2 separate regions of the Homo sapiens genome follow, and region 2 is linked to region 1. Evidence: fine-mapped expression QTL. A gene starts in region 1. The other region holds a variant in brackets. All regions are shown on one strand. Distances are from middle to middle. Region 1 holds the start of ASL (argininosuccinate lyase). Region 2 has its middle 16 kb from the start of TPST1.

The links. PIP is the estimated chance that this variant, and not a neighbour inherited with it, causes the effect.
Region 2: its variant is the best candidate, but not a certain one, in a credible set for the expression of ASL in NK cells (Gilchrist 2021, PIP 0.77).

Annotation. Positions count from the first base shown.
Region 1 is chr7:66,073,280-66,078,650 of GRCh38, forward strand. ASL (argininosuccinate lyase) reads left to right here and starts at 2,540. Exons shown (of 17, transcript NM_000048.4): 1 at 2,540-2,577; 2 at 2,760-2,814. The coding sequence starts at 2,803. RefSeq lists a silencer at 2,181-2,710 and an enhancer at 2,811-3,090.
Region 2 is chr7:66,187,071-66,192,441 of GRCh38, forward strand. No RefSeq gene overlaps it. Among named protein-coding and RNA genes, the nearest start is that of TPST1, 16 kb to the right of the region's middle. The variant A/ATT (reference allele first, on the strand shown) is at 2,302.

The DNA of each region.
Region 1 (5,371 bases):
AAAAATACTGATGGACGAATGGGAGGTGGCAAGACCGACACTGAGGGAAGGGCATCCCAGGCACAGGGAAGAGCATTTAGGAAGGCTTGAAACAGTCAGGTGCATTCTGGGAACTCCAAGTAATTCCACTCTTGAGTTGAGTGAGGGCTAAACACCTTCAAATCACAAAACATTCCAGCCACTGGTCTCTTCTTCTCCCTCCATTCCATCCTCAATACTATAGCTAGATTTATCTTCCTTCCTTCCTTTCTTTCTTTTTTAACATGGGGTTTCAGCCGGGCGCAGTGGCTCACCCCTGTATCCCAGCACTTTGGGAGGCTGAGGCGGGCAGATCACCTGAGGTCAGGAGTTCAAGAACAGCCTGGCCAACATGGAGAGACCCCATCTCTACTAAAAATATAAAATTAGCCAGGCGTGGTGGTGCATGCCTGTAACCCCAGCTACTTGGAAGGCTGAGGCAGGAGAATCGCTTGAACCTGGGAGGCAGAGGTTGCAGTGAGCTGGGACCGTGCCATTGCACTCTAGCCTGGGCAATAAGAGCGAAACTCCATCTCAAAAAAATAAATAAAAATAAAATAAAATAAAATAAATTTGGCTCCTCTGATTTTAAAATCGATCGGGGTTTCCTATGACCTATAGGACCAAGAACAAACTCCCTCTCTTGACATTGAAGACTCTTCACAGCCTTCTCCCAAACTCCTTCCACCTCTCCTCCCTACCTTTTGTTATAGTTACAGCCACTTGGATGATTTCCTGTTCTTAAAGCAGGCCAGTCACATTTTTTGTCCAGACTTCTCCCTCTGCCTGGAATGTTCTCCCCTTCTTCCCTGGGCAAATTCCCCCCATCTTCCAAGACCCAATGCAGAAGACAGGTTCATTAGAAGCCCCTTCAGGGTACTTCCAGTGCCTAGAATCCAGCCTGACATTTTGGTTGAATAATTAATTAATCAGATCAAGGACCTCTTCCCTGAGTACCCAACATAGCCCCCCTCCCCAACGCCTGTGCTCCCTGCACACCTCCTCCATGCTATGTTGGAACTTCTTGAAGTCAGGCTTCATTTCTTTTGTTTCGTTTCTTTCTTTGTTTTCTCTTCTCTTTTTCTTTTTCTTTCTTTCTTTCTTTTTTTTTTTTTTTTTTCGAGACAAGAGTCTCACTGTCGCCCAGGCTGCAGTGCAGTGGTGCCGTCTCAGCTCACTGCAGCCTCCACCTCCCTGGTTCAAGTGATTCTCCTGCCTCAGCTGTCGGAGTAGCTGGGACTACAGGCACCCACCACCACACCCGGCTAATAGAGACAAGGTTTCACCATGTCAGCCAGGCTCATCTCGAATTCCTGACCTCAGGTGATCCGCCCGCCTCAGCCTCTCAAAGTGCTGGGATTAAAGGCGTAAGCCACTGTGCCCGGCTGCGTTTCTTTTTTCTTTTCTTTTCTTTCTTTCTTTCTTTCTTTCTTTTTTTTTTTTTTTTTTTTTTTGAGACAGAATCTTGCTCTGTCACCCAGGCTGGAGTGCAATGGCACCATCTCAGCTCACTGCAATCTCCGCCTCCCGGGTTCAAGAGATTCTCCTGCCTCAGCCTCCGGAGTCGCTGGGATTGCAGGCACCCGCCACCGTGCCCGGCTAATTTTTGTATTCTTAGTAGAGACGGGGTTTCACCACCTTGGCCAGGCTGGTCTCAAACTCCTGACCTCGTGATCCACCCGCCTCGGCCTTCCAAAGTGCTGGGATTACAGGCGTGAGCCACCGCGCCCGGCCTCCGGCCGCGTTTCTTTTCTTTTTTAGAGGAGTCAGGCTGGAGTGCCGTGGCACAATAGCTCACTGCAGCTTCGAACTCCTGGGCTCAAGTGCTCCTCCCGCCTCAGCCTCCTGAGTAGCTAGGACTGCAGGCGTGCACCACCACGCCCGGCTTTTTTTTTATTATTATTAATTTTTTTGTAGAGACGGGATCTTGTTGTATTGCCCAGGCTGGTCTCCAACTCGTAGCCTCAAGCGATCCTCCCACCTCGGCCTCCCAAAGTGCTGGGATTACAGCTGTGAGCCACCGCGCCTGGCACAGGCTTCATTTCTGATGGTCCTTCCTTTTTCCTTGATGCCTTTCTCTGTACCTGGCACATAGAGGTGCCTGGTACGTGTTTGTTGAATGAATGAATGAATGAGTGAATGAGCGAACATGCCATTTCACCTTATATATCTTGTGAACCTGCCAGGCCCGGGCCTGATGTCATAGCCTCTACCCCTGGCCCGAGTCTCCAGTCCCCTGCGTGTCTGCTGACCACAGCACGAACGCCAGCGCACTACCCTCCTCAACCCCAGCCCAGGCCCCTTCCCCGTCGGGGTCCCCCCAACCCTTTCCCCGCCCGCTTCCCCGCCCCGGGGCCGCTTAGCCTCCAGCTCAGCGGGAGGTATCCCCGCCCACGGCCAGGATTGGAGGATGGAGGCAACGCCCACCCCGCCGGGCGGCCTCCTATTGGCGCGGCCGTCGCCAGGGGTGGGGACAGGACCGGCGGCTGCTGACGCCATCCCGGCCAGAAAAGCCCTGGCCAGTGGCGGGCGCGACACTATCCGTGCGGCCAGGCGGAGGTGAGTGCGCGGCGGCCGGATGGGCGGGACGGGCGTGGAGGACGCCGAGCACCGTGGCGCGCGCTCACGTCCGCGTCCCCAAGGGCTGCGCTCCCTCAAGCGCAGTGCCCAGAACTCGGAGCCAGCCCGGCCCGGGGGACCCTGCTGGCCAAGGAGGTCGTCAGTCCGGTCTTGTCTTCCAGACCCGGAGGACCGAAGCTTCCGGACGACGAGGAACCGCCCAACATGGCCTCGGAGGTGAGTGGGACCTCGGGGACTCCGGTCCTCCTAGCCTCCAAAGGAGAGAGTGGGGGCGCCAGACCTGCCTCGGGCCACCCTGCTGGGAATCGCCCTCCAGGAAGCAATTTTGAAAATTACCTAGGAAGCCTGCACCCCCAGCCCTCCCGGGCGCATCATCTGGAGCCCAGCAGTCACCTTTACCAGGACTCACCAGTATCCGCAGGCAGCCCTTGTGGCAAACCCACCAACCCACACTACTAGGGGTAGAGTGGCTCTGCCCTCACCTCACAGTGATGCCTGCCTGGCCAGGAAAAGTGGCTCCCAAGCCTTCAGCCTTCCAACTCTTCCTTCCTTCTTACCACGTGTCCTCCTGTCAGGTCCCACCCCACACCACATCCCTTCTCCTGCTAGAGCAATTGTCCCTGTTTATAGAATAAAGCTCAGCCCCTAAGTGTTCTTGTCCTTGACTGTGGCATGTGGAAAGAGCCAGGAAAAAGGGGACGTCGCCTCGTGGCTCCAGCAACCCTGGTGCCTGGTCCCTTCCTGTCTCACTGGACCCTGCCTCTTAGGGTCAGTGGCTCCTGGCCTCTCCTCCTGACCACTGAGATGCTGGATTCCCAGGCAGAGGTTTTCCTTCCTTGGGCCATAGTTGATTTATCTGGCAATGGGGGTAATAATAGCTGTCGGCCTCACTCTGTAAGGCACTAGATTATGAGGCCATTGCTTTGGACCCTTCAGGTGAGAGGGGCTGTTCGCCTGATGCTTGATGAAGGGAACTCCGGGAAGCAGGAGGTCTGGGTTCCAGGCCCTTTTGGCCTTCATTAGCTAGCAATTCACTTCCTCTTTCTCAATGCCCTGCAAGCTCAGTGCCCTGCAAGCTTCTGGGTCATGGCAGGGGGGTAGGGCCTGGACTTTGGAGCCAAACAGACTTGGTTTCTGTACCAGTCACTTGAGCCCTTTAAACCTCTTTCCTCATTTGTGAAATAGGGGTAATATTGCCCACCTCATAAAAGGCCGTAATAACATATGTGAAATCCCTAGCACAGGGCTGAGCAACAGTAGGTGCTCAATAAATGGTGGCTAACCACAACAATACTGATATTTCTACTTTGGGAGGCCGAGGCGGGAGGACTGCTGAAGCCCAGGAATTCCAGACCAGCCAGGGCAATGTAATGAGACCCTGTCTCTACAAAAAGATTTTGAAAATTACCCAGGTGTGGTGGCGTACACCTGTAGTCTCACAGGAGGCGGAGGCATGAGGATTGCTTGAGCCCAGGAGTTTGAGACTGCAGTGAGCATGATCTCACCACTGCACTCCAGCCCAGGCAACAGAGTGAGATCCAGTTTCAAAAAAATAAAAATAAAAAAACCTGGCAGGCATGGTGGCTCACACCTGTAATCCCAGCACTTTGGGAGGTCGAGGTGGGCAGATCACCTGAGGTCAGGAGTTTGAGACCAGCCTGGCCAACATGGTGAAACCCCGTCTCTACTAAAAATGCAAAAATTAGCTGGGTGTAGTGGTGGGTGCCTGTAGTCCCAGCTATTCGGGAGGCTGAGGCAGGAGAATCGCTTGAACTCGGGAGGCGGAGGTTGCAGTGAGCTGAGATCGCACCACTGCACTCCAGCCTGGGCGACAAAGCAAGACTCCACCTCAAAAAAAGAAAAAAAACCCACAAGTCCCAAAACCAAAACTGGTATTTCCCATGTACATTCGACCTTAACTGTTGCTCATTCAACCCAGCCCAACTCAGTGCCCCATCCCCTGGCCCTGAAGAGACCATTCTGGCCCAGATGTGTCCTGGCTTGGAGTAGCACCTTCTGCTACCACACTAGGCCTCCACTCTCCTCAGTGCCCAAGGGGAGGCACCTCACTCTGATCTCCCTGTGGGGTCCTCTTATGCCTGCCAGTAAGGATAGGAGTTTGGTTCTAGAGCAGAGTGGTCTGGCTTCCAACAAGCCCAGTGTTCTAGGTGACCTCAGGTTGCCCCAGGCCTTCCTGTAGGTTGGCACTAATTGGTTTGGCTGCAGCTCCACTTATTAAGTAGTTATTTTTATTACTAACAACCTAGGCAGGGTGGCCCAGGAGCCCGCTGGGGGAGGCGGTGCCAGGCTCCTGGCTGAGGGGCAGGCTGGCCCCAATTCTGACTGGCTGGCTCCAGTGATCAGGACCAGGGCCCCACGTGGTGCTTTGCTGGAGATCTAGGCTTGGTGGGGCAGCTGTGGGGTAAGGGGCAGGACCAGCTCAAAGATGGGGTGGGGGCGGAGGCTGCCTCTGCAGGGCAGAGTCCTTTGGCAGTCGGGACTGTTGGGCATAGAGGAGTCAGCTCACAGCTCAGGGCCAGAGCACTGGAGAGGTCTCTGGGGTGCATACAGGAACCAGGAGTGGAGCTGAAGCATGTCCTATCCCCTGCCAGCCCTCCCTTAGTAACAGCTGGCATTTCTCGAGTCCTTCCTGAGCACCAGGCACCGTGTTATGTATGCAATTTGCAAATATTATCTGATTAAATGCTCACAATAAGGCTATCAGAGAGGTACTATTATTATCCTTATCTTATTATTATTATTATTATTATTT
Region 2 (5,371 bases), 110 kb after region 1:
CCTCCTTGGCTTCCCAGAGTGCTGGGATTACAGGTGTGAGCCACCACGCCTGGCCAGAATCTGCATTTTAACAAGATATGATGTGTATGCTCATTAAAGTGAGAAATGCTGGCTTAGCACATTTTCTAGAATGTGATTTTTTGATGATTCCAGTGAAACTGACATTTTTAACAGGAAAAGAAAAAGAAATCAAGGTCGTGGGCTGGCCATATTCTCGCCATGTTCTTTTGCACTGGCCCTCAGTTCAAGCCTTGCGTTAGAATCTCCATGGACTTTCCTCAAACAGCATGAGTCTAGGCCTCAGATCTGATTTGAGGGTTTCAGAGAAGGGGGTCTGTCATCTATGAATTTTGAAGTATCTCTCCAGGTTAAGCTCCCAGTTAAGATTCCCTGATCAGACAGTACAGGGTACTTAGCTGCCTCATACCAAGTTAATTTTTTAAATTGCAAAATTTCTTGAGATATAATATCGGATAAGAAGTGATCCTTGGCTGGGCTTGGTGGCCCATGCCTATAATCACAGTACTTCCGGAGACCAAGGCTGGAGGATTGCTTGAGGCCAGGAATTTGAGACTAGCCTGGGCAATGTAGTGAGACCCCTGTCTCTACAAAACAAACAAACAAAAAAGCTGGGCATGGTGGCACACACTTGTAGTCCTAGCTACTCGGGAGGCTGGAGGCCCAGGAGTTTGAGGCTGGAGGGAGCTATGATCATGCCTCTGCACTCCAGCCAGGGTGACAAAGCAAGACACTGTCTCATGAAAAAAAAAGAAAGAAAAAGGTGACCCTTGGCTGTTTTTCAGAAGCGCAGGGGAAAAGGGGTCATATTTGGAACCTGGATTCTTCTCCATGGCCTCCAAACCTGGAGGAGTGTGGTCCCTCTGGAAGTGTCCAGTTGTGGCATTTCCCTGGTACTTGGAGGACCCAAGGAACTGCTCATTCCACCATCACACCCTGTCCTGCACACACCCCTGCTCAAACTCTGGCCACCAACCCAGGCACAGCTCACAGTCCAGGCTTGCTCAATTCCTCTGCCTCCTCAGACAAGAATGGCTGGAAAAAGTGACAGGGCAGGGTTTCTTGGAAAGCAATCTGGCCTGCATCAGCATTAATGATTAAAACGTGTCCTCATGTGGCAATTCCCCAACTGAGAGCCCATTCCTAAGCTATTTTAACTCATCAGTTCAGAAATTCTAGAGTCCCTGTCCTTAGTTTTTGAGGTCTGGATGCTTTTTTTTCCAGAGGATCCAATCGAGACACAATTGACTAGAAGGCTTCAGAAGCCACAGAAAATACCTACCTACCTATGGCCGGGCGCAGTGGCTCACGCCTGTAATCCCAGCATTTTGGGAGGCCGAGGCGGGCAGATCACAAGGTCAGGAGATCGAGACCATCCTGGCTAACACAGTAAAACCCCATCTCTACTAAAAATACAAAAAAATTAGCTGGGCTTGGTGGCGGGCGCCTGTAGTCCCAGCTACTTGGGAGGCTGAGGCAGGAGAATGGTGTGAACCCGGGAGGCGGAGCTTGCAATGAGCCGACATCGCACTACCGCACTCCAGCCTGGGTGACAGAGACAGATTCTGTCTCAAAAAAAAAAAAAAAAATCCACCTGCCTATTATCTATCTGTCTATCTCATTATCTACTTATCATCTATCTACCTATCCATCCATCTATCTGTCATCCAACTATCTATCCATCTATATACCTATCATCTATCTATTATCTATTTATCCATCTATCTATATACCTATCATCCGTCCATCCATCATCTATTTATCTATCCATCTATCTATATACTTATCATCCATGCATCTATCATCTATCAATCATCTATCATCTATCTATCCATCTATCTAGATACCTATCTTCCGTCTATCATCTATCCATCTACCTATATACCTATTATTTATCATCTATCTATTATCTATTTATCCTTCTATCTATATACCTATCATTCATCCATCCTCTACCTGTCCATCTAGTTATATAGCTATTATCTTTTTTTTTTTTTTGAGACAAAGTCTCGCTCTTATCCCCCATGCTGGAGTGCAATGGCACGATCTCAGTTCACTGCAACCTTCGCCTCCCAGGTTCAAGTGATTCTCCTGCCTCAGTCTCCTGAGTAGCTGGGATTTCAGGCATGCACCACCATGCCTGGCTAATTTTTGTATTTTTAGTAGAGACGGGGTTTCATCATGTTGGCCAGGCTGGTCTTGAACTCCTGACCTCAGGTGATCCACCCGCCTTCCGGCCTCCCAAAGTGCTAGAATTACAGGTGTGAGCCACTGCCCCCAGCC[A/ATT]TTTTTTTTTTTTTTTGAGATGGAGTTTCACTTTTGTTGCCCAGGGGCAGGAGTGCAATGGTGTCATCTTGGCTTACCACAACCTCTGCCTCCTGGGTTCAAGGTATTCTCCTGCCTCAGCCTCCCGAGTAGCTGGGATTACAGGCATGTACCTCCATGCCCAGCTAATTTTGTATTTTTAGTAGAGATGGAGTTTCTCCATGTTGGTCAGGCTGGTCTCAAACTCCCGACCTCAGGTGATCTGCCCTCCTCTGCCTCCCAAAGTGCTGAGATTACAGGCATGAGCCACTGCGCCTGGCGATTTCACACTTCTGATCTCCGGAGCTGTGGGAGAATAAGTTTCTGTTGTGCCAAGTCACCCAGTTTGTGGTCATCTGTTATGACAGTCTGGGAAACCAATACACCTCCAGCAGCTCACGGCCAGTCCACCTAGGACTGTGTGTGTATCCTGTGGGCATCATGCAAACCACCCCCACTCCCATTCCACCTTGACTGCCAGCCTAGGGTTGTGTCCAACAGCACAGCAGATATTTGCAGGGAGCAGAGCAACAGGCCAGGGACCGGTGGAAGGGCCTGGCTAGTGGGGCCAGGCCAGGCCCAGGTGTCTGGAACCTTGCAGATTTGCTGCACCCTGGAAATATCCTGGAGATAATATTTACTCTAATGTAATTTACTCTCAAATACTGTACTTCTGCCTTTGGTGCTTTCTCCCCTCTACCTCCTGACCAGGGATCACTAGAGGCCATTGGGGAGTGAGGAGGGAAAGAGCCTTCCTTTTGCCTCTTGCAAACTGGCCTCTCTCCAGGGCATGATCCCAGCAAAGAGCCAGCCCCATTGTGGTAGCCCAGAAGTGCCTGGTGGGCGTTGAAGGGGAGTGGGGTGTCCACCACCCACCCCTTGGTGAGCTGCATGAAGGCTCCCGGCGAGGCATCCCAAATGCCTTCCCTGCTCTCTGCACAGATTCTTGTCCTGGTTGCTTTTCCTTCTCTGCCCAGCCTGGCTCTGCCACCTCCAGCGCCTCCCAGCCTGGGCACCAGCCAGCTGCACTTTCCTTGAATGACTGGCAAGTACAACAGGACCAGGCTGGAATCATCGTCAGATGGGGCACAGGATATTTCCACAGTCATGAAGTATCTCCCAACAGATTACTTATTTATCACAAAAGAAAAACTAACTTTGCAGGGGAGAAAACTGGTGAATTTCTCTTTAACCAAATGATCAATACGTCCCACTATTGGAACAAACAGACCTCATGGGCTCCTGAAACGACTGACACCCGGGAAAGTTACAACACACTTCTGGGGCACATAACTTGTGTACTTCTAGAATGAAAGCCAGAAAGAGAGAGGAAATGTTCCAGATTAAAGGAGACTAAAGTGGCACGACAGCTAACTGCAACACATCTTGCTATAAAGGACATAATTGAAACAATCAGGGAAATTGCACTATGGACTGTATAGTAGATAACAGTGTCTGTGTCATGGCGATGTTAAATTTCCTTCATTTGATCATTGTATAAGAGAATGTTCTTTTTTTTTTTTTTTTTTTTTTTTGAGAGACAGTCTTGTTCTGTCCCTTAGGCTGGAGTGCAGTTGCTCGATCTCAGCTCCCTGCAACCTCTGCTTCTCAGGTTCAAGCAATTCTCCTGCCTGAGCCTCACAAGTAGCTGGGATTACAGGTGCCCACAACCGTACTGGCTAATTTTTGTATTTTTTAGTAGAGATGGGGTTTCACCATGTTGGCAAGGCTGGTCTCAAACTCCTGACCTCAGGTAATCCTCGTGCCTTAGCCTCCCAAAGTGCTGGGGTTACAGGCATGAGCCACCAAGCCTGGCCAAGAATGTTCTCATTTTTAGGAGACACCAATGAAGTATTTAGGAGTAAAGGGACAGAGGACGGTGTCTGTAATTTCAAATGATTCAATAACATTAAACATAATAACCTATCTGTATATATAGAGAGATTAAGCAAATGAGGCAAATGTTAATTGGTGAATCAACAGTTGGACACTTGGTGAATTGTATGGATATTGGAGTTCATGGTATTCTCACAATTTTTTTCTATGTTTAAATTTTTTTCAAAATAAGGTTTTAAATAAAAACAAGTCTGGGTGCCATGGCTCATGCCTGTAATCTCAGCACTTTGAGAGGCCAAGGCAGGAGGATCCCTTGAGCTCAGGAGTTTGAGAACAGCCTGGGCAACATAGTGAAACCCGGTCTCTATTAAAAAAATTTTCCCAAGTAGCTGGGATTTATAGGCACATGCCACCATGCCTGGCTAATTTTTGTATTTTTAGTAGAGACAGGGTTTCACCACGTTGGCCAGGCTCGTCTCGAACTCCAGACCTCAGGTGATCCACCCTCCTCAGGCTCCCAAAGTGTTGGGATTACAGGCGTGAGCCACCACACCCAGTCTAAATTTTTTTTTAAAAAGCCAGGTGTGGTGGCATGTGCCTGTAGTCCCAGCTACTCTAGAGGCTAAGGTGGGAGGATTGCTTGAGCCCAGGAGGTGGAGGCTGCAGTGAACCAAGACTACACCACCACACTCCAGCCTGGACAACAGAGTGAGACCCAGTCCCAAAAAAAAAAAAAAAAGTAAAAAACAAGGCTGGGCACGGTGGCTCACGCCTATACTCCCAGCACTTTGGGAGGCCGAGGCAAGTGGATCACCTGAGGTCAGGGTTTCCAGAGTAGCCTGGCCAACATGGTGAAACCTGGTCTCTACTAAAAGTACAAATATTAGCCAGGCATGGTTGTGTACACTTGTAATCCCAGCTACTTGGGAGGCTAAGGCAGGAGAATCGCTTGAACCCAGGAGGCGGAGGTTGGTTAGCCGAGATAGCACCACCGCACTTCCTCCTGGGTAACAGAACAAGAATCTGTCTCAAAAAAAAAAAAAAGTAAAAAGTAAAAAACAAACACGAACCATAGGGCTTTTTGTCTATAGGTAACAGAGATATAGAATAAAGTGAACTGGGCCGGGCGCGGTGGCTCACGTCTGTAATCCCAGCACTTTGGGAGGCCGAGGCAGGCAGATCACCAGGTCAGATCGAGACCATCCTGGCTAACAAG